Linked DNA regions of Homo sapiens: regions 2, 3, 4, 5, 6 and 7 are each linked to region 1. The links come from fine-mapping of genetic effects on gene expression. A gene starts in region 1. Each other region holds a variant in brackets. All regions are shown on one strand. Distances are between the middles of the regions.

The links.
Region 2: its variant is fine-mapped to the expression of ERV3-1 in tibial artery (GTEx, PIP 0.99).
Region 3: its variant is fine-mapped to the expression of ERV3-1 in nucleus accumbens (GTEx, PIP above 0.99).
Region 4: its variant is fine-mapped to the expression of ERV3-1 in spleen (GTEx, PIP above 0.99).
Region 5: its variant is fine-mapped to the expression of ERV3-1 in whole blood (TOPMed, PIP above 0.99).
Region 6: its variant is fine-mapped to the expression of ERV3-1 in whole blood (INTERVAL, PIP above 0.99).
Region 7: its variant is fine-mapped to the expression of ERV3-1 in whole blood (INTERVAL, PIP above 0.99).

The regions. Positions count from the first base shown.
Region 1 is chr7:65,005,035-65,009,101 of GRCh38, forward strand. ERV3-1 (endogenous retrovirus group 3 member 1, envelope) reads right to left here and starts at 1,653. Exons shown (of 2, transcript NM_001007253.4): 1 at 1,507-1,653. It overlaps ERV3-1-ZNF117 (ERV3-1-ZNF117 readthrough), which reads right to left and starts at 1,712. Exons shown (of 4, transcript NM_001348050.2): 1 at 1,507-1,712. LOC105375330 (a long non-coding RNA gene) reads right to left here. Exons shown (of 6, transcript XR_927607.1): 5 at 3,952-4,067; 6 at 3,640-3,677. RefSeq lists an enhancer at 1,584-1,643 and a silencer at 1,744-1,913.
Region 2 is chr7:64,950,005-64,954,071 of GRCh38, forward strand. No RefSeq gene overlaps it. Among named protein-coding and RNA genes, the nearest start is that of ZNF117, 39 kb to the right of the region's middle. The variant TC/T (reference allele first, on the strand shown) is at 1,779.
Region 3 is chr7:64,792,962-64,797,028 of GRCh38, forward strand. ZNF138 (zinc finger protein 138) reads left to right here and starts at 1,467. Exons shown (of 4, transcript NM_001271639.2): 1 at 1,467-1,610. The coding sequence starts at 1,608. RefSeq lists enhancers at 1,193-1,242, 1,483-1,722, 1,507-2,067. The variant G/A (reference allele first, on the strand shown) is at 2,331.
Region 4 is chr7:65,361,787-65,365,853 of GRCh38, forward strand. No RefSeq gene overlaps it. Among named protein-coding and RNA genes, the nearest start is that of ZNF92, 10 kb to the right of the region's middle. The variant T/A (reference allele first, on the strand shown) is at 2,039.
Region 5 is chr7:65,074,771-65,078,837 of GRCh38, forward strand. No RefSeq gene overlaps it. Among named protein-coding and RNA genes, the nearest start is that of SNORA15B-1, 6.3 kb to the left of the region's middle. The variant T/C (reference allele first, on the strand shown) is at 2,395.
Region 6 is chr7:64,976,982-64,981,048 of GRCh38, forward strand. ZNF117 (zinc finger protein 117) reads right to left here. Exons shown (of 4, transcript NM_015852.5): 4 at 1-2,555. The coding sequence ends at 1,138. ERV3-1-ZNF117 (ERV3-1-ZNF117 readthrough) reads right to left here. Exons shown (of 4, transcript NM_001348050.2): 4 at 1-2,555. The coding sequence ends at 1,138. Among named protein-coding and RNA genes, the nearest start is that of ZNF117, 12 kb to the right of the region's middle. The variant C/T (reference allele first, on the strand shown) is at 2,342.
Region 7 is chr7:64,914,955-64,919,021 of GRCh38, forward strand. ZNF273 (zinc finger protein 273) reads left to right here. Exons shown (of 4, transcript NM_021148.3): 2 at 2,627-2,753; 3 at 3,243-3,338. Among named protein-coding and RNA genes, the nearest start is that of ZNF273, 14 kb to the left of the region's middle. The variant CA/C (reference allele first, on the strand shown) is at 1,588.

The DNA of each region.
Region 1 (4,067 bases):
TCTTAACTTCTCTAAGGGTTTGCTTTTCAAAGGAAGAGTACCCCAGGAGACTCCTCTCAGCCTCAGGGCATCCACCTGCTCCCTTGAGAGGCTACACTCCAACTTCAGGCTGTCCTGTCTCCCATTCCCAGATATGCGAAGTTTCATTCCAGGCCAGGAGCTGAAATTTACTAGACATTGTAGCATACACAGCCACAGTGGATATCTTGATTTATCCCCAGACAGTACTGAAACCCAGAACCAGGGAAAAAACTGAAGGGTGGCTGAGGACACATTACCTTATAAAGTTTCCAAAGGGAAACCCTGACCCAAAAATATTCTGATAAGGTTTCTGTGGCTAGAGGCAATAAAAGGAAAGGAGGCACAGAACATTTTTTACAATACAGTGTCAGGGGATTATTCTTTGCTTTCTTCTCTTGGGAAATCTTTACAAACAGAAAACAAATCTTTTTTAAAATGCCAGCCAATGCTTTGTCAAAAAATGATTAATTAAAATATGGTACCTAAAATGTACACTAAAGTGTACATTAAAGGACAAATAGTTGATAATGTGAATTAGGGAGGGGAAATTGGCATTTGGGAATGTCAGAAGGAACTGGAAATTTAGTATTTTACTGCAAGCCAGAGTTAGGCTGGAGGAATGGGAAATGGGGAGAAGTCTTGAGACCCTGCTTGAGACAGAAGTGAAAAATGCAGAGGAAAATCAGTGCCCTGTGGAGTGTGAAAATAATTAAGTGGCAGGCAATTAGACTGAGGTGGCTCCAGTCCTAGGGTTGCTACTTGCAAAAAAATCTAACTCGAATGATTTTTTTCTAAAGTATTACATTGGGGGAAAATAAAATTCAGGCTTAACCAACTATAAACTGCCAATTAACCTCTCATTACATGACCAGGGAATTTCCACCTTGATCGTACAAATTAAGAAACTACATAACTTTACCTAACCAATTATTGAATTTGCTTTCCTTTATCATGCACTTTATAAAAGTGTTTTCTTCAAGCCCCTTCCATAAACCACAAACTACAAAACATAGCTTGGTGCTCTACAATTCTTGAATTACTCTTTAATTAAATTCTTTAATATTTCTGCGGAGACTTCCACAAATTTTTAATAGAAAAAAAGGGGGACTGGGAACCCCGCAGACCAAAGCTCTTCCCATTCATGAACTCTGCATCCTGAGTCAGTATTCTCCCCTGACGACCGTCCAGTGGTCCCTGCACAATCGGGGAGAGCTGCGGCAGTGGGGGCAGAGCTGCCCACAGAGGACTCCAGAACAAGGCACAGTCACTGCGCAGGGAGGAGACAGGATGCCCGGGGTCCGAGCTGTCAGCCCGGCCGCCATCCTATGGCTGAAGGGGACTGAGGGCCGAGCTGCGCCAAGGAGAACTCGGGGCCGCGGATTTTGGAGCCAGCTGCGGGGAGGCCAGAGTCCCGCCACAGCCACTTCCCACCAGTTCCAACCAGCCCCGCCCCCTCTCTCGGGATGTCGGACCCGGCACTCTCACCATTTCTAGGCTTCCAGTGGGTCCTGGCGTCTTAGCTGTGGATCTCCCAATACCTGCAGGTAACGAGGCCACAGAAGCTGGGCCTCTAGGAGCAGAAGACACAGAGCAGTGAAGACTACACCAGAAGCTCCGGCTGCCGCCAGAGACAAAGGCCCCACCAAACCCGGAAGCCGTCCTGTCTGCTCCAGCTGAGTGCCTGATTGGACGGGTCCCAGCCCAGCGTCCCTGATTGGATAATGTTTAGGGCCCCACCCTCTCAGGCCTTGATTGACAGAAGACGTGCTCAGATGCTGGGCTGAATGTAGAGTGAACCCTAAGCCTTTTCAGGCAGAGCTTCCTCCCTGAGCTGACCCAGGCCCTCCCCAGACGGCATTTGCCTTGTAAGGCAACCGTCTGAAATAAAATGTGAGCCATGTGTGAATTCTAAATTTTCTAGTAGTTAAGAAGAAAGAAGAAACAGGTGAAATTCATTCTAACCATTTAATAACCCAATATATCCAAAATATTATTTTAGTATAGGAGCAATATGTAATTATTAATGTAGTGTATATATTCTTGGAACTAAATCTTTAAATCTAACCCTGTATTTTACCTTTCTAGCACATCGCAGTTCAGACCAGCCATATTCCAGCTATCCTGTAGCCACACATGGCCAATAGCCACCACATTGAAGTGCAGCTCTGATTTCATACTTCCTCTCTCTCTCTCCTCAAACCTCCTGTGCTTCCTTCCCTCCCTCCCTTCTGCTAAGCTGATGCTCACTTCTCCAACGTTACTAGAAGCCCTCAGAGTGAATGTTCTTATCTTCCCACCATCCACCGACTGTGTCTCTGTTCCTTCCACTGTCACTGTGTAATAATTGCCCTTCTGCGGCTGGGCATGGTGGCTCATGCCTGTAATCCCAGCACTTTGGGAGGCTGAGGTGGGAGGACTGCTTGAAGCCAGGAGCTTGAGACCAGCCTGGGCAACATAGTGAGACTCCATCTCTACAAAAAAGTTTAAAAATTAGCCATGGGCTGGGTACGGTGGCTCACGCCTGTAATCTCAGCACTTTGGGAGGCTGAGGTGGGCGGATCACCTGAGGTCAGGAGTTCAAGACCAGCCTGGCCAACATGGTGAAACCCTGTCTCTATAAAAATACAAAAATTAGCTGGGCCTGGTGGCGTGCACCTGTAATTCCAGCTACTTGGGAGGCTGAGGCAGGAGGGTCACTTGAACCCAGGAGGTGGAGGTTGCAGTGAGCCAAGAACGCACCATTGCACTCCAGCCTGGGTGACAGAGCGAGACTGTGTCTCAAAAATAAAAATAAAAGTTAGCAAGGCGTGTTGGTGTGCACCTGTGGTCCCAGCTACTCAGGAGGCTGAGCTGGGAGGATAACTTGAGCTCACGAGTTCAAGGCTACAGTGAGGCATGATTGGGTCACTGCACACCAGCCTGGGTGATGGAGTGAGACCTTATCTCTTAAAAAAAAAATGTCCTTTTGATTTATGAAGCCTCGGCCCGGCCTGAGCTGTGGTTCCTATTCCTTCTGGCTTTCCCAAGCTTTTCTTGCCCACTGGAAGTTTCACTGGAGGGTAGAGGACTGGCTCTGTAGTTGGGGACCTAATTGATGCTCTGTTTTCTGTAAAGAGGAATTTTTCTAATTGTCACTTAGCAGGGAGCCTGGCTAGGAATGGAATCTGGGGGCATTACTATTGGTTTACCCTCCTGGGGACCCCTCATCTTTGGTCCATGCATATTCTCCTTGGGGTGGCATCCTGTAATTAATGATCTCTTACATATCACAGCACCTCGAAGCTCCCCCAGACACATCCTCATCCAGCCTCTCACTCTGATGCCATCATTGTCTAGGGACACCTCCGCATAGGTCCATACCATGTCTCAAGCTGCTCATCTCAACAACATTTGTGCTCTAGGAGGTGGAGGTGCCCTAGGGGGCTCCTCACCAAGGGAGTGGGCAGGTGATCCCAGCACTTTGGGAGGCTGGGGCAGGTGATCCCAGCACTTTGGGAGGCCGAGGCAGGTGGGTTATTTGAGGTCAGGAGTTCATGATCAGCCTGACCAACATGGTGAAACCCCATTTCTGCTAAAAATACAAAAAAATTAGCCAGGTCTGGTGGTGCATGCCTGTAGTCCCAGCTACTCAGGAGGCTGAAGAGAATCGCTTGAACCTGTAAAGCGGAGCTTGCAGTGAGCCAAGATCATGCCACTGCACTCCAGCCTGGGTGACAGAGTGAGATTTAATAAAAGTGTATGCATTGAATCCATTGGGAGGTTTATCTGTTGGGGGAATGGGAATAACTGGGAATCACACAGACAGAGAGACAGGAGTGGGGCCTTCCATGGGGCCATGATGCCGTGGCCCGTGGGTCTGGGTGGGGGAATGTGATGCACTCTGCCCTCCCCCTAGGCCTCATCCCTCCTGTCTAACTCAGTTGTCCTTACCTGTGGCTCTCAGGCTCCCCTGCAAAGGCACATTGTGGCTGCAGCTTCCAGCTTCCTCAGAAGCAAACATACTTTGGTAATAGCCAAGAGGTCAGGCCGGGCTTGGTGGTTCACTC
Region 2 (4,067 bases), 55 kb before region 1:
TTGGATATTGCAAAGTTAAAAGAACAAATATTTAAAGCATCCCAGGCACATCTGACCTTAATACCAGGAACTGGAGTGCTTGAAGGAGCTGCAGACGGATTAGCAGCCAGTAACCCATTAAAATGGATGAAAACACTTGGAAGCTCTGTGATTTCAATGATGATTGTGTTATTAATCTGTGTTGTTTGTCTTTGTGTAGTCTGCAGATGCAGATCCTGACTCCTGCGAGAAGTAGCTCACCGTGATAAAGCTGCCTTTGCTTTTATTGCCCTGCAAAAACAAGAAGGGGGATATGCTGGGGAATAGGCCCCCAAATCTGGACATAAACTGGCCCCAAAACTGGCCATAAACAAAATCTCTGCAGCGCTGTGACATGTTCATGGTGGCCATAACGCCCATGCTGGAAGGCTGTGGTTTACCGGAATGAGAGCGAGGAACACCTGGCCTATCCAGGGCGGAAAACCACTTATAGGTATTCCTAAACCACAAACAACCTATGCCTTAAGGACATGTTCCTGCTGCAGATAACTAGCCAGAGCCCATCCCTTTGTTTCGGCCCATCCTTTTGTTTCCTGTAAGGAGTGCTTTTAGTTAATCTATAATCTATAGAAACAATACTTATCACTGGCTTGCTGTCAATAAATATGTGGGTAAATCTCTGCTCATGGCTCTCAGCTCTGAAGGCTGTGAGTCCCCTGATTTCCCACTCCACATGCTATATTTCTGTGTGTGTGTCTTTAATTCCTCTAGTGCTGCTGGGTTAGGGTCTCCACGACCGAGCTGGGCTTGGCAAACGTAACTCTTTCTGGGTACTTCCTGTTGGAAAGGAGTGCTGTGGGCCGGGCGCGGTGGCTCACGACTGTAATTTCAGCACTTTAGGAGGCCAAGGTGGGTGGATAATGAGGTCAGGAGTTCAAGACCAGCCAACATGGTGAAACCCAATCTCTACTAAAAATACAAAAATTAGCTAGGCGTGATGGCATCTGCCTGTATTCCCAGCTACGCAGGAAGCTCAGGCAGAAGAATTGCTTGAACCTGGGAGGCAGAAGTTGCAGTGAGCTGAGATCATGCCATTGCACTCCAGCCTGTGTGACAGAGCAAGACTCCATCTCAAAAAACAAAAAAAGAGAGAAAAAATGAAAAGAAAGAAAAGGAGTGCTGTGGCAGGGGGACAGCAGTTGGGGCTCCTTCTGAGGTTGATCTAAGGGTTCTCAAAAGAATGGTGTGTCCATGTGTGGCTCTGTTCATAGCACCATTTAAGGTTTAATTGTTTCTAGGTGAAAAGAGAGAAATTTTTCAAGAAGGCTTGAAATATAGGGTTAGAATATGAGTATTTAGCTTACCATTGTTAGTAGAGATCCTATAGACCATAACTGTGACAGCAGAGTTTGTTAGCTGTTAGCTACACCAATGGATTGTAATACCAGTTTGCCTCCACTAGATGTTGCTGTACATTGCCAGAAATGTTAATATGAAAGTAACATTTGTTTTGAGAAAACATACATTTCCCCCATGACTTGCCATTAGGGAATACTATTAGGTTTAGGCCATCTTTTATAACTTACAATATCATTGGGAGAATACGTTATTGGGTGGCTAAAATAACTTTAGTGTTGATCTTAGCAATTTCTTTCCTTTAATTATTAAATTCTTTCATGACAGGCCCTCTTACAAGATTCTTAAAATTTCTGACTTGTCCTAAACATCCTTCCTTTAAACAGCCAGTCATTTCCTTTCAGGACAAGAATTTACCATACAAGATATTTTCTTATATAAAA[TC/T]TTTTTATAACCTTCTTTCCATAGCTTAGAGTGCACCATAGTACTAATCTTTAATACAAAGTCCTATCAAACTTAACGATAGTAAAACTTCCATGCTTACTTCCTATCCATAACTCTTACTCCTGCTATAAGCAAAACAAACTTGACTAAATCTTTTCTGCAACTGCTAATCCTTTTACAAAGATAATAATTAGGCAAATTGTTTCAGCAATTAGAATTTTACAACCAGAATTCCACATTGTGGGTGCCACAGTGTACAGTTCTATTGCAAATAATAGCGTGAATATAACAATTCCTGCAAAAGTGGTGTAGTAAATAGTTTCTGTTTAAAACTTTACTTGCCAAGCTATAACATTCTCCTTTGGGAATTTATGAAGTTACAAATGCAATTCTATGTATAATTGAAATTTCTGGCAAATATGCATTAAAAAGAAGGTCTAATATTTGGCGGTGAATTTTGAGAGGAAATGTAGAATTTTTTTAAAGTATCTGGTGAGGTAGATGGGATTGAGTAAGATGAGTAGCTCTCACTCAGTTACTTATCTTTTACGATTTTCAGGTTAAGATCTTCTATTTCTCCACACTGATATTCAGGACATTCCTCTGGGCTGTCAGAGGTTGCTCCCTCAGCTCTTCAGGCTTTGACTTGAGTGTGATGCATTCAGAATTTGATACCTGTAACTTTTACTGCCAAGGGGCTTGAAAGAAAATCAGTGTAGGGCTCTTCCCAGTTTGAGTTTAGGAAAGGAGAGAGTTTTCACTAATGCCAAATCTCGAGTTAAACAAAGGTGTTCCTATTTCCTGGGGTTGGGCTTCTGCCAGTTGTGTCAATTCCTGTTGGAAGTGAGCTAGAGAGGTTACATGCTTAACCAACTTAGAGGTTTTCTGCCTGAAAAGAATCTCTGAACACAATGATAAGATTTATCCTTTCCTAAGTGAAAAACTTGTTGAAGGATTTTAAGGACTTTCCATTGGCTTGAGGCTGGCAAATGGAGTTTGCCATCCTCTGTCCTCTGACTGTAGCCATCCTGAGAGATGAAAATATACCCTCAAGAAGCAGCCCATTCTATTTCCACAGAGAAATACTGAGGTTTATTTTCTCTTATGGAGCCTTCCTATATTCGAAGGGCTTGAAGTGTGTTAATTCTTTGAGGCTTCCTCACCTTTGACTTAGCTGTCTGATCAGATAACCTGTTTCCTTTGGCTACTTCATCTGTTCTCTTTTGATGTTCCTTACAATGTGTCCCTGCCATTTTTCATGGAAGGAAAACTGAGGATAATAACCAGTTAATTTCTGGTGATATTTTATAGGAGAAGCATTAGTGGTAAGATTTCTTTCTGCTTTTTATTATAAGTTGTATTTCATACAGGTATTCAATTTATATCACCCTCCTTCATTATTTTAATATAAAGCCTTCTCCACTTTATATCAGTGGAAAACAGGCCACCTGGTGCCAGGAAAGCACATGGATTGCCATTTTAATGATGATGATGAAAAGCACTTGTTTGGGTGGTACTCACGTGCCAAACACTGTTATTTGGCTCAAAGTACCAGTTTTTTATTCTTCTCTAAATGTAGTGATAAAATAAAATAAAATTCTTAGTTAAGAAGACTTTATCTCATTCAAGTATGTATTATGAAATTTTGTTGACACTTAAGTGTCTCTGACTTACCTAGAATATTGAAATTTTTCATGAATTCAATTTGAACACTGTAAAGAAACTTTTTTTTACTAAAAGCCTTTGTGAGGCAGAATAAGATTTATGAAATGTCTTTATAATATGGAAAAATGTGTTAATGATGTTTGTAGTAATCCCTCTGAACACAGCATTCTCAATTCCCGGTATTCACCCTGAGTTACTCAGGGGAAATTGGTATCTCTGTAAACAGGCAGAAGAAAGTGCAGAGTGAAGGTGCACAACATAGCACAGAAATGTTTTCCACATGCACCTATTAGGGTCTTAATGTAATGGACTGTTATTTGCGTGGCTACATACTTACTGAATCTAGTCATGCTATTTTCTGGCAGCTAAAGGCATCTGTTACCCATTAATTTTATATAATTATTTTCTTGGTGGAAAAATAAATCCTTTTTAAATTTACTGTAAATTAAGAGATTAGATTTGTAATCTTCAATTTTTTAATGTTAAAGCAAATCAGAGAAAAGCCATGTGTGTATATTGTATGCATTTTCCTACCTATCGAAATTCTTGTACTGCCCTGAAATATCAAGGACTTAATAACGGAGCAAATCCTAAATCTGGTCTTTGCTTCTTGTTAGTAATCT
Region 3 (4,067 bases), 210 kb before region 1:
GCAAGTGATTCTCCCATCTCAGCTTGCCAAAGTGCTAGGATTATAGATGTGAGCTACCGTGTGCTTCTTCAATTTCTTAAGATTATTTCTAGCAATAATAATAAACAGTGCTATATGGGCACAAATCTAAAAGAAATCTGGCTTCTATTTTAGAAGTGTCACTCTCCAGGATTTCAAGGGTCAAATGGAGTTAATTCTGAGTCCCAGCCCAGCCACTTAATAGCTGTGGGTCTTTGCACAAATTTTTTTTTTTTTGATGTGGAAGAGTTATATAAACCACATATGCAAAAAAAGGCAGAATGATACTGATTGCAAAAATGTTAGCAATTTTTCATCCCTCCGCTATCCATGCCCATTGCCAGGTGCATTTACAGCTGTTTCCATTGAGATCCAGTTCTGTTTTCCAAACCCTAGATCTGGCTGGCCTTATTTGCTCAGGGCAGTAAAAACCTGTGAACAGTGCAGTGTGCTAGTTTGAGGCGTAGGCTCAAATGGTTTTGCATGCTTCTGTTTTTCTTTCAGAAGGCTACTATCTCCGCGAAAAAAGCCCATGTTAGCCAGATGGAAGATAAAATAGTATGGGGAGGAGAAGCAAGTTGCCTCTGTTGACAGCCTCAGAAGCAGAAGCTCACCCCCAGAAGCACAGCTGCCTAGTCAACAAGCAGCTGATGATACATGTCTGAAGGAACTCAGCTGAGGTCACAAGAATGGTCTCACTGAGCCCAGCCTAAATGACTAACCATCTCAATTAGAGTGAATTCCACCTGTTTATTCTTAAAGTTTGACTACTAGAAAATTTGGAATTCACATGTGCTCTGTAATCCCAGCACTTTGGGAGGCCGAGGCAGGTGGATCACCTGAGGTCAGGAGTTCGAGATCAGCCTGACCAACATGGCAAAATTCTGTCTCTATTAAATATACAAAAAGTAGCCGGGCGTGGAGGCGGGTGCCTGTAATCCCAATTACTCAGGAGGCTAAGGCAGGAGAATCACTTGAGCCCGAGATGCGGAGTTTGGGGTGAGCCGAAATCGTGCCACTGTGCTTGAGCCTGGGTGAGAGTGAGACTCTGTCTCAAAAAAAAAAAAGAAAAAAATCTCAGGCTGCCTGCTCAAAGGACCAGAAGCCAGTACGGTTATAAAATCTGGAATTTAAAAATAATTGTTATATTCAGATGTGAATAGCTATATGTTATTTATAAATGCATACGACCTTATACACAAGGTTAAATGCAAATGCCCTCTGGGGTGGGCCTGACTCAGCTCAGGGAGGAAGCCCTTCTGGAAAAGGCTGCTGCTTAGGTTTAACTCTGTCTTCCTTCAGCCCAGCACCTGAGCACATCTGTCACTCAGGGCCTGAGGGGGCGGGTTGTTAAACGTTATCCAATCAGGGACGCCGGGCTGGGAACGGTCCAATCAGGCACCCAGCTGGAGCGGACATGACGTCTTCCGGGAGGCGGCGGGGTCTTTGTCTCGCTGCAGCGGGTGCTGCAGGTCTGGCCTTCACTTTTCTGCGTCCTCTTACTCCTAGAGGCCCAGCCTCTGTGGCGCTGTGATCTGGTTATTGGGAGATTCACAGCTAAGACGCCAGGATCCCCCGGAAGCCTAGAAATGGTGAGAGTGCTGGGTCCGACATCCCGAGAGAGGGGGAGGGAGCTGGTTGGAACCGGTCGGAAGTGGCTGTGGCAGTACTCGGGTCTTCCCGCAGTCGGCTGCAAAATCCGCGGCCCCGAGTTCTTGGCACAGCTCGGCCCTCAGTCCCCTTAAGCCATAGCATGGCAGCTGGGCTGACAGCCGGAACCAGGCGTCCTGTCTCCTCCCTGCGCAGTGACTGTGCCCTGGCCTGGAGCCCTCTCTGAGCAGCTCTGCACCCGCAGCGATTGTGCAGAGACGACGGGAGGGTCGTCAGGGGAGAATCCTGACTCGGGGTGCTGGGTTCATGAATGGGAAGAGGTTTCCTCCGCGGGCTTCCCTGTCCCTCTTTTCCCCTATTAAAATTTATGAAAGTCACCGCAAAAAAATTAATTTAATCAAACAGTGATTCAAGAATTGTGGAGCACCCAGCTGTGGTTTGCAGTAGTGGTCCGTGGGAGGGGTTTGAAGGAAACACTTGTATAAGGTGTATGATAAAACCAAATTCAGTAATTGGTTAGTAGAGTTATGTAGTTTCTTAATTTGTACAATGAAGGAGGAAATTTCCTGGTCATGTAATCAGAGGTTAATTGGCAGTTTACAGTTGGTTAAACATGAATTTTATTTTTCACAAGGTAGTAATTTACAAAAAAATGCATTTGAGTTAGATTTTTTTAAAACCAGAAACCCTGGGACTGGAGC[G/A]ACCTCAGTCTAATTGCCTGCCACTTAATTATTTTCACACTCCACAGGGGACAGATCTTCCCCTTCATTTTTCACATGTGTCCCAAGCAGGGTCTCAAGACTCCTCCCCCTCCCCATTTCCCATTCCTTCAGCCTAACTCTGGCTTGCAGTAAAATACTAAATTTCCAGTTCCTTCTGACATTCCCAAATGCCAACTTCCCCTTCCTAATTCACATTATCAACTATTTGTCCTTTAGTGTACATTTGAAATACTGTATTTTAATTAATCATTTTTTGACAAAGCATGGATGGCATTTTAAAAAAGATTTGTTATCTGTTTGTAAATATTTCCCATGAGAAGAAACCAAAGACTCATCCCCTGATGCTGTATTGTAAAAAATCTCTGTGCCTTTTTTTTTTTTTTTAAATCTTCCCTAGGTACAGAGATCTTATCAGAATATTTTTGGGTCAAGGTTTCCCTTTGGAAACTTTATAAGGTAATGTGTCCTTAGTCACTCTTCAGTTTTTTCCTTGGTCCTGGGTTTCAGTACTTTCTGAGGATAAATCAAAATATCCACTGTGGCTGTGTATGCTAGAATCTCTGGTAAATTTCAGCTCCTGGCCTGGAATGAACTCTGGTTATCTGGGAATGGGAGACAGAGGACAACCTGAGGTTGGAGTGTAGCCTCTCAAGGGAGCAGGTGAATGCCCTGGGGCTGAGAGGAATCTCCTGGTGTACTCTTCCTTTGAAAAGCAAACCCTTTGAGAAGTTAAGATTGTCTTCAAACCAACCCAGTGTCCATTTCCGGAGACATATTGCTGGTCAATCAATCATATGCTGGTATTGAGGGGAGAACACAGAAATAATTTCGGCCCACTGGATTCTCTAAGATTTGTGAAAGAAATGATAGTATCCAAAAAGACAAATCAAACCTTACCCCAGTGAGATGGTTCAAGAACTTGCAAAGTGAAATGTACTTGGGGCAGTCACTGAGGCATAGTGCAGCGTCTTCAGAGAGGGTGGTCTTCAGAGAGGGTGGTCGTTTAGCACTTAAGTGAGCAGGATGGGGTGGGAGAATCTCTCAAGTGATTGGGTGGCTTGACTTGACATGTGAGTGAGATACATCTGTTTTTTAATCAGCACTGCCACTCCCTGGGATTGTCACCCTGAAAAGATTTGTTCACTTACTTCAGTGTTTTAATTGTAACTTGCAGTTTATTAGTAGGACTAAAAGGTAAGAGGATAATTAGAATGGGCATGAAAGAGATGGGTTTTGGAAAAAAATATCTAATCATATATTCTATTTGTTAAGTATTCTCATTTACCTTTTTCTTTCCCAGACTGAGTTTAGGAATTTTCTCAGGTCTGTTTTTTTATGGCTGGGTGATGTCCAAGAGTATTCCAAGGCTTAGCTTTTAGAATGCTACCAAGGAAAAGAATAGGGAAAATACTTCTTCCATTTTGGCTGTGGAAAACGAATACATTTCCGGCGGGGTGCGGTGGCTCATGCCTGAAATCCCAGCACTGTGGGAGGCCAAGGCAGGGAGATCACCTGAGGTCAGGAGTTCTAGACCAGCCTGGCCAACATGGTGAAACCCCATCTCTACTAAAAATACAAAAATTAGAAATTAGCCATGAATGGTGATAGGCACCTGTAATCCCAGCTATTCGGGAGGCTGAGGTGGGAGAATCATTTGAACCCCATAGGCAGAGGTTGCAGTGAGCTGAGATCGTGCGGCTGCACTCCACCTTGGGC
Region 4 (4,067 bases), 360 kb after region 1:
TGGCTCACGCCTGTAATCCCAGCAGTTTGGGAGGCTGAGGTGGACAGATCACCTGAGGTCAGAAGTTCAAGACCAGCCTGGCCAACATAGTGAAACCTATGTTGAACCTAAAAGTTAACCTTTTAGTCTCTACTAAAAATATAAAAATTAGCTGGGTGTGGTGGCGGGCGCCTGTAATCCCAGCTACTCGGGAGGCTGAGGCAGGAGAATCGCTGGAACCCAGGAGGTGGAGGTTGCAGTGAGCCGAGATTGCGCCACTGCACTCCAGCCTGGGCAACAGAGCTAGACTCCGTCTCAAAAAAATAAAATAAAATAAATAATAATAATAGCTCCTCATTTGACCTCAGTCAGAACTACTCACCTTATATACTTTTTCTTTTTCTTTGTTTTTTTTTTTTTTTTTTTTTTGAGATGGAGTTTCGCTCTTGTTGTCCAGGCTGGAGTATAGTGGCGTGACCTCGACTCACTGCAAATCCCGTCTCCCGAGTTCAAGTGGTTCTCCTGCCTCAGCCTCCCGAGTAGCTGGGATTACAGGCGCCGGCCACCACGCCTCGCTATGTTTTTGGATTTTTAGTAGAGATGAGGTTTCACCATGTTGGCCAGGCTGGTCTTAAACTCCTGACCTCAGACGATCCACCTGCCTCGGCCTCCCAAAGTGCTGGGATTGCAGGCATGAACCACCATGCCTGGCTCACCTTATATACTTTTATTGTCCACAAGTTTTATTCTCACTGCTCTCTCCAACCCAATTTAACATATTATCTTCTGCCATTGATAGGCTTTCCTATGTTAACCCAGTTGGCGTTTTTAGGTATTGATTTGTCCTCTTGAAAGGCCTTTCAAGTTTAACTGAAATTTGTTTCTAGTTTTCAAAGAAAAACTGTCATGTAAAAATCCTGTACTAAGAAAATATATTTATTAAAACTAAAGCCTTTAATAACTAAGCTCTTAGTTATTAAAACTAAAAGGCTTTAGTTAGTAAACTATATAAGCCTCAGTTATTAAGGCTTTAATTATTAAGACTAATCACTCTTGAAAGCCTTTCACGTTCAATTGAAATTTTCTTATTCCTCAAAGAAAAATTGTCATGTAAAAATCCTACATTGAGAAAATATATTTATTAAAACTAAATGTAAAATAAACACATTCCAGAGCAAAAAAACTGAGAAAATTTGGTGCTAGCCAGCCCATCTTACAGAAAATATTAAACGAAGATAAGGCTAAAATCAACTGACCACAGATAATAATTTGAATTCACATAAAATGACAGAGTATTGGTAAAGGTAATTATTACAAAAGAAAGTATAAAAGAATATTACTTTTTCGTTATTATCTTACTTCATTTCAGACAAACAATTGTATAAAAATATGAATATAGGCTGGGTGTGGTGGCTCATGCCTGTAATCCAGCACTTTGGGAGGCCAAGGCGGGCAAATCACGAGGTCAGGAGTTCGAGACCAGCCTGACCAACATGGTGAAACCCCGTCTCTACTAAAAATACAAAAATTAGCTGGGCGTGGTGGTGTGCGCCTGTAATCCCAGCTACTTGGCAGGCTGAGGCAGGAGAATCACTTGAACCTGGAAGGCTGAGGTTGCAGTGAGCTGAGATCACACCACTGCACTCCAGCGTGGGGGACAAAGCAAGACTCTGTCTCAAAAAAATAAAATCTCTTGATAATAAATTGATTCCACTGGAATAAGTAAATAAAACAACTAATAAAAGGATGATTATCAAAAAAGACGTAGATATGTAATTACCTTTTCCTTAAAATAAATAAAATTATATAAAATAAGTGTAAAAATGTGTCAAATTTATAACATGTGGATATAATAAGTGTAAAATTAATACAACAAAAATGAGAGGAACAAATAATATAGAACCAACATGTTTTGTATTTCATTAGTATTAAGTTTGTATAAATGTGAAACACATTCTAATGACATAAGATGTATATTGTGGGGCCGGGCATGGTAGCTCATGCCTGTAATTCCAGCACTTTGGGAGGCCGAGGCGGGCGGATCACCTGAGATCAGGAG[T/A]TCGAGACCAGCCTGACCAACATGGTGAAACCCGTCTCTATTAAAAATAGAAAAATTAGCTGGGCGTAGTGTTGGGTGCCTGTAATCCCAGCTACTCGGGAGGCTGAGGCAGGAGAATCGCTTGAACCCGGGAGGCAGAGGTTGCAGTGAGCCAAGATCGCACCATTGCACTCCAGCCTAGGAGACAGAGTGAGACTCCGTCTCAAAAAAAAAAAAAAAAAAGTATGTTTTAGGCTGGGTACGGTGGCTCACACCTGTAATTCCAGCACTTTGGGAGACTGAGGCAGGCGGAACACAAGGTCAACACATCGAGACCATCCTGGCCAACATGGTGAAACCCTGTCTCTACTAAAAATACAAAAATTAGCTGGGCATGGTGGCCCACGCCTGTAGTTCCAGCTACTCCAGAGGCTGTGGCAGGAGAATCACTTGAACCCCGCAGGCTGAGGTTGCAGTGAGCTGAGATCGTGCCACTGCACTCCAGCCTGGCGACAGAGCGAGACTCCATCTCTAATTGTAAGAATTAGAGAAACAACTAAGGGTATAATTCCAAAAATATGTGAAGAAAATTATGAAAGAAATTAGAATGTTACATAATAATTATGCTCTTAATGCAAAACAAAGCAGTAGAAGTAGAAAAATATAACAAAATGCATGAGATTATAGAAAAGAAAATAATATAACAAATATAAGCACAGCTATATAAATAATAACATTACATATAAAAAGATTAAACAGGGCCAGGTGCAGTGGCTCACGCCTGTAATCCCAGCACTTTGGGAGGCCAAGGCAGGCGGATCACTTGAGGTCAGGAGTTCGAGACCAGCCTGGCCAACATGGTGAAACCCCATCTCTACTAATAATACAAAAATTACCTGGGTGTGGTGCTGCACGCCTGGAGTCCCAGCTACTCAGGAGGCTGAGGCAGGAGAATCTCTTGAACCCGGGAGGTGGAGTTGCAGTGACCCAAGATCACACCAGTGCACTTCAGCCTGGGCGACACAGTGAAACTACGTCAAAAAAAAAAAAAAAATTAAACAATTAAGGAAAGCTGAGATTTAAAAAATTAAATATAGAAAAATCTAATTGAATGCTGTTCACAATACATGCACTTTGGATACAAAAGAACAAATACTATAAAAGTGAAAAGGCGGAAGCATGCAAATAGCTACCATAAGAAAGTTGTATTTGTTGGCTGGGCACGGTGGCTTATGCCTGTAATCCCAGCACTTTGGGAGGCCGAGGCTGGCGGATCATTTGAGGCCAGGAGTTTGAGACCAGCCTGGCCAACATGGTGAAACCCCGTCTCTACCAAAAGTACAAAAAAATTAATCAGGCTTGGTGGCATACGCCTGTAGTCTCAGCTACTCAGGAGGCTGAAGCAGGAGAATCGCTGGAACCCGAGAAGCAGAGGTTGCAGTGAGCCGAGATCATGCCATTTCACTCCGGCTTGGGCGACAGAGCGAGACTCTGTCTCAAAAAAAAAAAAGAAAGAAAAGAAAAAAGAAAGTTGTAGCTGTTATTTTAAAATTAGAATAAGCAGAATTTAAAACAAAAATATTTAATAGACATAAAGTAGGACATTTGATAGAGATAAAATGGATAATAAAAAAGATAATAAAAAGGATGGCATGACAATTATAAACATATATACACCAAGAAATAATCGGCAAAATACATAAAGTCAAAACCGAGAAAAATGAAGAAAAAATAGAGAATTCAACGATGATAATCGAAGACATACATATCTTTTAATAATCATTTAAAAAGCAGTAAGAAGATCAGCAAGAAAATGAAGCACTTGAAAAGAAAGGTAAAAATAACTAGACCTAGCAGACATGCTTAGTATGCCCCCAGGAAGCACCTGCAGGTTATATATTCTCCTTAAATGCATGTGGAATCTTCTCTAGGAGAGAATATACTCAATGCCATAAAAATAAAAAATGCAATTTAAGTATTTAACAAATGCAATGTGTGTTCTCTAACCAGAGTGAAAGAAAATTAGAAACTGATGATAGCTATAAATCTG
Region 5 (4,067 bases), 70 kb after region 1:
GTCCAAAGGTTCAAAAAGTAGTGAAGGGGCCTCTAGGGACCCTCAACCTGCTTTTCCTTACTTCCCTGGGCAGCCTTGCAGGTGGTATGGCCAGTCCTACACCTCGTGTCCGTCAGTTTCCCCCGCTGAACCGTTGGGTGAGGGGCGGTGGTGGAGCAGCATGCGCATGTGTGGAGGAGGCGACTGCCACCGTGGTGCGTGAGGGCGGATGAGCAGCGGGGCCGTGGGTGTGCGCGGCGTGGCGCGCCAGTCCTGATGCCAGCATGGGTTGTTCATCACCGCTGCTGTCCCTGCTGTCGCTCCTGGTTGGTGCGTGGCTCAGGCTAGGTCATTGAACCGCCGGCCACGCCGGGGGCGCTGGGAAAGGGGATGGGGCCCTCCGCCCTGGCGGGAGAGAGCCTGAGGCCCCTCTGCCCGCTTCCGGGATGCGCCTGCAGCCGCCGGCTGGGGAGGTCGCTCTCGGTGCGCAGGGTGCCTCACCGCCTTGTGCTTTCAACTTCTTGCTCTGGAATCTTTCAAACTTATAAAAGGGAAAGAGAGGCCGGGCGCGGTGGCTCATGCCTATAATCCCAGCACTTTGGGAGGCCGAGACGGGTGGATCACTTGAGGTTAGGAGTTGGAGACCAGCCTGGCCAACATGGTGAAACCCCGTCTCCACAAAAATACAAAAAATCAGCCGGGCGTGGTGGCGTAGGCCTGTAATCCCAGCTACTCAGGAAGCTGAGGCAGGGGAATCGCTTGAAGCCAGGGGGCGGAGGCTGCAGTGAGCCGAGATTGTGACACTGCACTCCAGCCTGGGAGATAGAGCGAGACTTCATCTCAAAAAAAAAAAAAAGGGAAAGAGGAGAATGTAACGAGGAACGACCCCTGCCCTCACGTACTCGTGGGCCACCTTAAAGAGCTGCCAGTTTGTGGCCAGTCCTGCTCCTGTGGAATCGCACTCTCCCCGTCTCCTGGAGCCATTTTGAAGTGGGTCCAGACATAACCCATTTTATTCTAAACCTTCAGCTGGAATAGTCAAAAGAAGTCACGAAAAAATAATTACCCTTTCTCAACTAAAAAACTGGCAGTGCTGCTTAATAATATATCCAATCTGTTCAAATTCATCTATTATCTCATAAAGGGTTTTTAACGTTTGCTGGCTGAATTAGGGACAAAATAAAGCTCATACATTGCAATTGTATGTTATTTCTTAATTCTGATTCAATCTGATTATTTCCCTACTTACTCCTTTTATTTATTTGTTTTTTTGGTGGGGCGGGGGGACAAGGTCTCACTGTGTTGCCCAGGCTGGAGTGCAGTGGTGCCATCATAGCTCACTGTGGCCTCAAGCAATCCCTGCCTCAGCTTCCCAAAGTGCTGGGATTACAGGCCTGAGACACCATGCCAGGATGATCCATTTTTTCCCCTTGGTGATATATTTGTTGAAGAAACTGAAAATAGGCCAGGCGCGGTGGCTCAAGCCTGTCATCCCAGCACTTTGAGAGGCCAAGGCGGGTGGATCACAAGGTCAGGAGTTCAAGACCAGCCTGGCCAATATGGTGAAACCCCATCTCTACTAAAAATACAAAAAATTAGCTGGGAGTGTTGGCACGCACCTGTAGTCTTAGCTACTCAGGAGGCTGAGGCAGGAGAATCGCTTAAACCCAGGAGACAGAGGTTGCAGTGAGCCGAGATCATGCCACTGCACTCTGGCCTGGGCAACAGGGCAAGGCTCTGCCTCAAAAAAAAAAAAACAAAAAGAAAGAAAAAAAATGGATGAAATCAGTGTGAATGTGTCAGAATAAGAGAGCCAAAGACAGGATCTTGAGGAACATCAAAAGACCAGGACTCTGCCTTGAAAGAAGTTACAGTGCTTAGACATCCTTTCTTGTAAAGACACTGAAGTGGTGCATCAAGCTGAAGAAGTGTGGCCTATTGGAAACAGTACTGTAAAGAGACCCGAATCTAGTCCTGTCAGCTGCTAACCAGCTCTTTAAGTCATATTTCTTTTTTGGGTCTTGGTTTCCTCCTGTGGAATAAGGAGTTTGAAGCACAGACCCTTTTTTATTTATTTTGAGACAGAGTCTCGCTCTGTCCCCCAAGCTGGAGTGCAGTGGCACGATCTTGGCTCACTATAACCTCCGCCTCCCAGGTTCAAGTGATTCTCCTGCCTCAGCCTCCCAAGTAGCTGGGATTACTGGTGTGCACCATCATGCCTGGCTTTTTTTTTTTTTTTTTTGAGATGGAGTCTCGCTCTGTTGCCCAGGCTGGAGTGCAGTGGCACGATCTTAGCTCACTGCAAGCTCCACCTCCCGGGTTCACACCATTCTCCTGCCTCAGCCTCCCGAGTAGCTGGGACTACAGGTGCCCGCCACCAGGCCCAGCTAATTTTTTTGTAGTTTTTAGTAGAGA[T/C]GGGGTTTCACCTTGTTAGCCAGGATGGTCTTGATCTCCTGACCTCGTGATCCGCCCACCTTGGCCTCCCAAAGTGCTGGGATTACAGGTGTGAGCCACCGCACCCAGCCTAATTTTTGTATTTTTAATAGAGATGGGGTTTCGCCATGTTGGCCAGGCTGGTCTTTAACTCTTGACCTCAGGTGATTTGCCCACCTCTGCCTCCCAAAGTGCTGGGATTCCAGACGTGAGCCACCATGCCTGGCCGGTCCTTTTTAATTCTATGATATTTCTGAGGCATTCAAACAAGTCTAAAGGTGCTCATTTAACTATTTGGCGATAATCATTGCGCATTTATGGCAGGGACCAGGTATATACTGTCAAAAATATATATGTATTATATACTTCCCTTCTGGAGCATATAATGGTGAGAATCACCAAGAACTGTAAGAGTTCAGTAAATGGAGAGGAAGAGGCAGAGAAACAGCATGAGCAGAAGGATGGGTAGAAAGTGCTAGATGTATTTTAGGGTAGAGTGTCTAAATTCGCCTAGTTGGGGCAAGGGTTTGTGTAGAGGAAGAAAGAGGTAAGTGCAAATCTATCATGTGCGCAACATTTCACCCATGCTATTTTATTACTATCTTTTTATTTTTTATTTTTTGAGACAGGATCTCACTCTGTCACCCAGGCTGGAGTGCAGTGACATGATCATAGCTTACCGCAACCTTGAACTCCTGGGCTCAAGCAATCCTCCTGCCTTCGCTTCTGCACCCTGTCTCTGAGCCATTGAACCTGGTTCCATGTTACTTTAATTGATACAGCTACTACCTAAGAGATAGTGAGATAGTATCCCCATTTTTCATACTTATTTTTTTTTTCTTTTATGAACAAGCTACAGTTGTCCATAGGTATCCTCATTTTTCAGATGAAGAAATTGAATCTCAGCCGGGCGTGTTGGCTCACACCTGTAATCCCAGCACTTTGGGAGGCTGAGGTGGAAGGATCACTTGATCTCAGGAGTTTGAGACCAGCCTGGGCAACATAACAAAACCCCATCTCTACAAAAAATACAAAAATTAGCCAGGCGTGGTGGTGCACACTTGTGGTCCCAGCTCTTAGGAGGCTGAGGTGGGAGGACTGCTTGAGCCCACGGGGGCAGAGGCTGTAGTGAGCCAAGACTGCATGACTGCACTCCAGCCTGGGTGACAGAGTGAGATCCCGTCACAAAAAAAAAAAGAAAAAAGAAAAGAAATTGAATCTCAGATTAAGAAATTTGCCTAAGGTTTCCCATCAAACTAAGTGGCAGAACAAGAATGTGAAGGCAAACAAAATGCAAAAGGAATTTAAAGCCAGATTTTTAAACCTCCACATTTTTTGTTTTGTTTTGTCATACCATCATGAGTATTGCATACGATCCAAATATTACCACTTGTTTTATATATATGCATGTATTACCGATACCTCTCTTTTTTATCTGCAGGAAATGGACAGGCTACTAGCATGGTCCCACTGCCAGGTGGGAGATTCCTGATGGGAACAAATTCTCCAGATGACAGAGATGGTGAAGGCCCTGTGTGGGAGGCAACAGTGAAACCCTATGCTATCGACATATTTCCTGTCACCAACAAAGATTTCAGGTACATCAGGTGTTCTTCCAGGAGGAATGAAGGCCCTCTCTAATCTCATTCTTTTTT
Region 6 (4,067 bases), 28 kb before region 1:
TTTCTCTCCAGTACGATTTTTCTTATGTGCAGTAAGGTTTGAGGATAAGTTAAAAGCTTTGCCACATTCTTCACATTTGTAGAGTTTCTCTCCAGTATGAATTATATTATGTATAGCAAGGTGTGAGAACTGTTTAAAAGCTTTACCACATTCTTTACATTTGTACAGTTTCTCTCCAGTATGAATTACCTTATGTTTAGTAAGCGTTGAGGACAGGTTAAAGGCCTTGTCACATTCTTCACATTTGTAGGATTTCTCTCCTGTATGAATTTTTTTATGGTCTGTAAGGTTTGAAGATCGGTTAAAAACTTTGCCACATTCTTCACATTTGTAGCATTTCTCTCCAGTGTGAATTATCTTATATGTAGAAAGGGTTGAAGACTGGCTAAAAGCTTTAGCACATTTTTCACATTTGTAAGGTTTCTCTCCTGTATGAATTTTCTTATGTGTAGTAAGTTTTGAGCATCGACTGAAAGTTTTGCCACATTCCTCACATTTGTAAGGTTTCTCTCCAGTATGAATTCTTTTATGTATAGTAAGAGTTGACACTTGGTTAAAAGCTTTGCCACATTCTTCACACTTGTAGGGTTTCTCTCCAGTATGAATTCTTTTATGTATAGTAAGAGTTGACACTTGGCTAAAAGCTTTGCCACATTCTTCACACTTGTAGGGTTTCTCTCCAGTATGAATTTTCTTATGTGTAGTAAGGTTTACGTATAGGTTGAAAGCTTTGCCACATTCTTCACATTTATATGGTTTCTCTCCAGTATGAATTATTTTATGTGTAGTAAGAGTTGAGAACTGGTTAAAAGCTTTTCCACATTCTTCACATTTGTAGGGTTTCTCTCCAATATGAATTTTCTTATGTTTAATAAGGTTTGATGATCAATTAAAAGCTCTGCCACATTCTTCACATTTGTAGGGTTTCTCTCCAGTATGAATTCTTTTATGTGTAGAAAGGGTTGAAGATTGGTTAAAAGCTTTGTCACATTCATCACATTTGTGTAACTTCTCTCCAGTATGAATCATCTTATGTTTAGTAAGGGTTGAGAAATGGTTAGAAGTTTTGCCACATTCTTCACACTTGTAAGGTTTCTCTCCAGTATGAATTTTCTTGTGTTCAATGAGTTTTGAGGATCAGGTAGAAGCTTTGCCACATTCATCACATTTGTACTGTTTCTCTTCAGTATGAATTATCTTATGTGTAGTAAGTGTTGAAGATTGGTTAAAAGCTTTGCCACATTCTTCACATTTGTAGGGTTTCTCTCCAGTATGAATTCTCTTATGTCCAATAAGGGTTGAAGATCGGTTAAAGGCTTTGCCACATTCTTCACATTTGTAGAGTTTCTCTCCAGTATGAATTTTCTTACATGTACTAAGTTTTGAGGATAGGTGGAAAACTTTGCCAGATTCTCTACATTTGTGGGGATTCTCTCCAGTATGGATTATCTTATGTGTATTAAGGGCTGAGGACTGGTTAAAGGCTTTGCCACATTCTCCACATTTGTAGGGTTTCTCTCCAGTATGAATTACCTTATGTCTAGTAAGGTTTGAGAGTTGGTTAAAAGCTTTGCCACATTCCTCACATTTGTAGGGTTTCTCTCCAGTATGAATTTTTTTATGGTCAGTAAGATTTGAAAATTGTTTAAAAGCTTTGCCACATTCTTCACATTTGTAGGGCTTCTCTCCACTATGAATTCTCTTATGTGTAGTAAGGGTTGAGGACTGGTTAAAGGCTTTACCACATTCTTCACATTTGTACAGCTTCTCTCCAGTATGAATGTACTTATGTTCAGTAAGTTTTGAGGATCGGTTAAAAGCTTTGCCGCATTCTTCACATTCATAACGTTTCTCTCCGGTATGAATTAACTTATGTTCAGTAAGCTTTGAGGCTTGGTTAAAAGCTCTAACACATTTCTCACATTTGTAGGGAATTTCCCCAGTATGAATTATATTATGTGTAGTAAGGGTCGATGACTGGTTAAAGGCTTTGCCACATTCTTCACATTTGTAGGGTTTCTCTTCAGTATGAATTCTCTTATGTCTAATAAGGTGTGAGGTCTGGTTAAAGGCTTTGCCACATTCTTTACATTTGTAAGGTTTTTCTCCAGTATGAATTCTCTTATGTTTATTAAGGGTTGAGGACCAGTTAAAGGCTCTTCCATATGCTTCACATTTGTAGAAATTCACTCTAGTTTGGATTCTTTTATGTTGAGTTAGGTGTGAAAGCATGCAAAATGTTTTGCGACATTCTTTACATTTAAAATGTTTATTTTCAGTATGTCTCATCTTGTGTCTATTTGAATTTGAAATTTTATGGAAAACTTCTACATATTTATTA[C/T]ATTGAAATATTTTGCTCAAGGTAGTTTTCAAACATTGGTTAAGTCCACTATAATCTCCTTTGTGCTGTTTACACTCAACCACACTTTTACAGCCTTTTCTTAACTGTAAATTCTCATATCCACATTTTCTATATCTTCTTAGGGTCACTTTCTGGAAAGAATCTCTTATGTTCTGCTCTGGCCAAAGGTGTTGGGCAAAATAATAAAACATAACTGAAAGAAATAAAAGTAACAAACTACTTCACTTGCTCGACTCAGATGAATATACTTTACAAATCTAACCCATAAAGTTACAGAAACTACATAAGCAAGATGGCATAGCAAAATACCACAGGTTCTAATTCCTTCATAGACATATAAATGTAACAAGAGCATATTGACCAAAATGCATTTATAGAAAATTTATAAATGAGTTACGTGTGTGCAGTGTTCCAGGTTATCACAATTCCAAAAGCCACATGGAAGGAAGAGAAAAGTTGGTTACATTTACCCAACACAGCTCTTTCTGCTCCTCAGTATAACATAGTGTCTTTAGAAGTACATTACCAACTTTTGCTTTCTTTTTCAACAGACAAGAAAAATAACACACCCACATCTTTATTTCTGGCTTTATTAGGTGCTTTGGCGGACACTGGTTTCTGTCTCCAATGACATAAAGTGCTGAAATTAACAGTGGTATACTTTGGAATGACATTTTGAGTCTGCTGAGATCAAAGGTAAATGTTACAGCAGGAAAGAGACTGTACTACAGACAGGGAACAGTTGTGGCAAGTGATGACTATTAAGAAGAAACATGAATAAAGTCTTTTAACTAAAAAACAACTAGAACATTTCAGACAAGACACATCCTAAGAACATGTTTGAAAGACTCTCAGGATCTCTAGCTAAGACAAATGGTTTCAGACTTTGCCAGGACAAAGCTACATTATAGACACTGTGACAGGTAGCTTGTTTTTAATGTTCAAATTTCAATTAAAGATTACAATGCATACAAAATTTTAGGGCAACATAGCTCTATCAGATATTATAAAATTTTCAGAAAGCAACCATTAAAAAATTAATTTTAAAAAGTTAACATAAATTGAATAATACTCCATGAATGAAATAGAAACACAGACAACTATTAAAAATCATAAAAATTGGGATAACAAAAATATTAAAAATATCAAAAAACAGATATTGTGGAGGTAAAAAATATAAAAAAGGAACTGAAAAATTATAAGAAAAACTGATGTAAAAATTAAAAAGGTTAACAAAGAAACTAGAATACACACAAAGATATTTACAACAAGAACATATATAAGCACAATTTTAAAAGTCACAGACAAGAGAATATTGTGAGTTGCAAGATAAAAGTGATATGTTATTTATAAGCATAGTCTTATGAGGTAATGAGTGAATTTCTCAAGAAAATTTGCAGGCCAGAAGGGAACTAACTGTGTGACATTGTCCAAGTCCTGAAGAAAATAGCTGTCAAGTGAGAATAATACCAGCAGCAAATCTGTCCTGCCAAATAAAAAGAAAAAGCCAATCCAAAATAGCCAAATCCTGAAAAGGTATATTGGCACTGCATATGCCTTACATATGTAACTATATTTCAAAGCTATAGTAGTAAAAACAGAATGGAATATACAGAAAAATAAACAACAACAAAAAAACCAATGGAACAGAAATCACTACTCACACATTTCAGACTTGATGCAAAAAGAGAATTTAAAAAACTGT
Region 7 (4,067 bases), 90 kb before region 1:
TCAGATCAAGAGCTGTGTCCACTCTGCCTCCTGGAATGCCATGCGTTTAGTACTTGTAAACCTTTGCTTCTCTACTTGCATTTTTCTTCCCTATTAAGTTTATTTTAACTACTTTAAAAAATTCTCATGATAGTCAAGCATCTCTGAAAAATACTTCTTTCCTATATACCAGAGCCTACTCTACTTTCTCTACATCGTGGCTTCTTATATTCCATGCAGAATTCTCACATGACTTTGTGATGTGCAACATTAAAAATGTTTCCTTTGTGGCTGTGGATACTCAACATTCCTATTGGGGAAAAGCTGGTGCCGAGACCAGCTCGGTCAGGGAGAACCTAACCCAGCGGCGCTAGAGGAATTAAAGACACACACAGAAATATAGAGGTGTGAAGTGGGAAATCAGGGGTCTCACAGCCTTCAGAGCTTAGAGCCTCAAACAGAGATTTACCCACGTATTTATTGACAGCAAGCCAGTGATAAGCATTGTTTATGTAGATTATAGATTAAAAGTAGTTCTTATGGGAAATAAAGGGATGGGTTGAAATAAAGGGATGGGTTGGGCTACTTATCTGCAGCAGGAGCACGTCCTGAAGGCACAGATCGCCCATGCTATTGTTTGTGGTTTAAGAAAGCCTTTAAGCGGTTTTCCGCCCTGGGTGGGCCAGGTGTTCATTCCGGTAAACCCACAACCTTCCAGCGTGGGCGTCATGGCCATCATGAACATGTCACAGTGCTGCAGAGGTTTTGTTTATGGCCAGTTTTGGGGCCAGTTTATGGCCAGATTTTGGGGGGCCTGTTTCCAACAAGCTGGGGTCCTTTGTAAATATGGAGAACATGTAATGTTGGGGTTTCATTTGTGTTCTCCATTAGCTCTATGCAGAACAGAATTAACAAAATGCTTATTTAAACAGGATAACATTTATTACCCAAAAAGTTCTAAAAAATAATTACTCAGAGATGGCCAGGCATGATGGTTCATGCCTGTAATCCCAGCACTTTGGGAGGTTGAGGTGGGCAAATCACCTGAGGCCAGGAGTTCAAGACCAGCCTGGCCAACATGGTGAAACCTCGTCTATACTAAAAATACAAAAATTAGCTGGGTGTGGTGGCACATGCTTGTAGTCCCAGCTACTAGGGAGACTGAGGCAGGAGAATCGCTTGAGCCTGAGAGGCAGAGGTTGTAGTGATCAGAGATTGCATCACTGTACTCCAGCCTGGGCAACAAGAAAAAAAATTATTAGGAGAAAACTGCTCTCTACGGTGTTGAAGACTACTTAAAATTACTGTTAAAAATAACAACATAAGATAGGCACGTCGCTCACGCCTGTAATCCCATACACTTTTGGAGGTTGAGGCGGACAGGAGTTCGAGACCAGGCTGGCCAACATGGTGAAACCCCATCTCTACTAAAAATGTAAAAAAAAAAAAAAAAAAATTAGCTGGGCATGGCAGCGGCGGCAGGCGCCTGTAATCCCACCTACTTGGGAGACTGAAGCAGGAGAATCGCTTGAATTCGGGAGGCGAAGATTGCACTGAGCCGAGATCACACCATTGCACTCTAGCCTGGGCAAGGGAGCAAAACTGTCT[CA/C]AAAAAAAAAAAAAAAAAAAAAACCATACACACAAAATAACAACATAAGAGTTATCTGTATCTTGAAGAGGGCATAAAACTGATGTTTGTGTATGGTTAAATTCAGACTATAATTTACTTTTGCGAGGGGCAATATTGAAGCAGTGATGCTGTGTTTTTCTGTGTGCCTCAGCGCATCATACAAATCTGTCCTGGTTCAGTTGATGTTAATGATTCACTTGGTATACCTATGTAACAGAACATGTAACCTATGTTACATGTTCTGCACATGTAACCCAGAACTTAAAGTATAATAAAATAAAAGAGCTCTCTGACAGATTTATTTTTCTTACTATAGAGTTAATTATTTTTCTCTTCTTTATTAAGTATCTTTATGCAGCTGATGTGCATAAACCATCACATTTAATCTGGAAGCTGCCCTTCTTTCTTAGGTTTCCTTTGTATATATTTGTCTTTGGAAAATAAAGGCTCTCATCTTTGTTTACAGGCCAGAAAAACTGGGAAAATCACAGGCTCTTCCACTTACTGGATGTTTGACAAAATATTCTTCTTGGGCCAAAAACATTGGCATTACTGGTGAGCTTGTTAAAAATTTGGAAACTCAGACTTTATTCCAGATCTTCTGGAAAGAAAATCTGCATAACAAGATCTCCAGTTTATTACTGTACACATTAAAATTTTAAAGCTAGCTTGTAACACAGCATTTCTTTTCTATCTGAAAAATATACACAGCTGATTCTGTATGATGTAAATATAGCACTCACAAATGTACGTGTTTGTGTTACTAATTTTATACTTTATTATCTAGAAAAGTATCATATATAAACTGCTATTGTGGATCTTATGCTACTCTTTTCTCAGAGTTAGAGAACACATTTGAGAATATTTCTGTTTTGAAAATTATTTTATTGGATAATTTTAGTCACTCCTATAAGTAAAAACCAGTTCTCTTTACTTTCGCATTCCACCTTGAGTCAAATTAAATATTCTGTCCAGAGCAAGTTGGTAAATATGTTTTTGTGTGTGTGTGTTTTTCAGGGACCACTGACATTTAGGGATGTGGCCATAGAATTCTCTCTGGAGGAGTGGCAATGCCTGGACACTTCACAGCAGAATTTGTATAGGAATGTGATGTTAGATAACTACAGAAACCTGGTCTTCCTGGGTGAGGATAATTTTAATACATAATTTAAAGGTTTCACTTCTCCTTTCTGTAGAATGTTTTTTGGAAATTTCTGCTTTGCATAAATAAATTTTAGATCCCTATTTTCAACAAAATCCTGGGGATTTGTTCATTTAGAAATGAATTTCTTCAAGATGTTTCATCTTGACTTGAACTTTCCACGTTCTTGAGCTACTCTGTATCCTTCACTCTAGATTAATGGTAATTCCAAAAATTTAGTGGCATAAAAGTTGCCCACACCGTAAAATCTAATTGCCACCACTAATTTTTCATTCCGTAGTACTGAGTAGTGAAATTAAGAACATACAAATTTAAAATATTTTTTAAATATTTAGAAATTTACATTACTAATTAGATATTTTGGGATTAATTTACTAGAATACTTAATTACATCCTCTTTACTGAGCACATTACTGGTTGATAATTGGAGAATATGAGCAAGATTCATGTTACTCATTTTTAATAAAACAGGTATTGCTGTCTCTAAGCCAGACCTGATCACTTGTCTGGAGCAAGGAAAAGAGCCCTGCAATATGAAGAGACATGCGATGGTAGCCAAACCCCCAGGTAGGTGAGAGTGATAGCGAATATAACAGATGACACAGATGACAGGTCTAAAGGTCAAGGAGAAAGTCAGTTCTTAAAATGTGATTTGGGCCAGGCGCGGTGGCTCACGTCTGTAATCCCAGCACTTTGGGAGGCCGAGGCGGGCGGATCACGAGGTCAAGAGATCCAGAGCATCCTGACCAACATGGTGAAACCCTGTCTCTACTGAAAATACAAAAATTAGCTGGGCGTGGTGGCACATGCCTGTAGTCCCAGCTACTTGGAAGGCTGAGGCAGGAAAATCACTTGAACCAGGGAGGCGGAGGTTGCAGTGAGCCAAGATTGTGCCACTGCACTCCAGCCTGGAGACAGAGTGAGACTCCATCTCAAAAAAAAAAAAAAAAAAAAAAAAAAAAATGTGATTTGGGAAGCTGCGTTCAAAAAAAGTAGTTTCTGGAGAGCTGGATTTTTTTTTTTCCTTTGCTCTCACATAGGAGCATATTCTGTCTTATGCTTTTAAATTCTCTAAGGATTCTACTTTCCCTTCAGTGATTTTCCTTCAAGTTTATGGTGAAAGCTAAAGTCCTATTCCTGGCATATAGGAAACTGCACAATCTTACTGCTTTTCCATTGTTTTGGGGGACACACAGATATCTGCATAATTTTGAGAAACTCTGTGTTAAACTATTTTTCATGTTCTCTTTTTGCATCACATCTGAAATATGTGAGAGTAGTTTATATTACATTGGG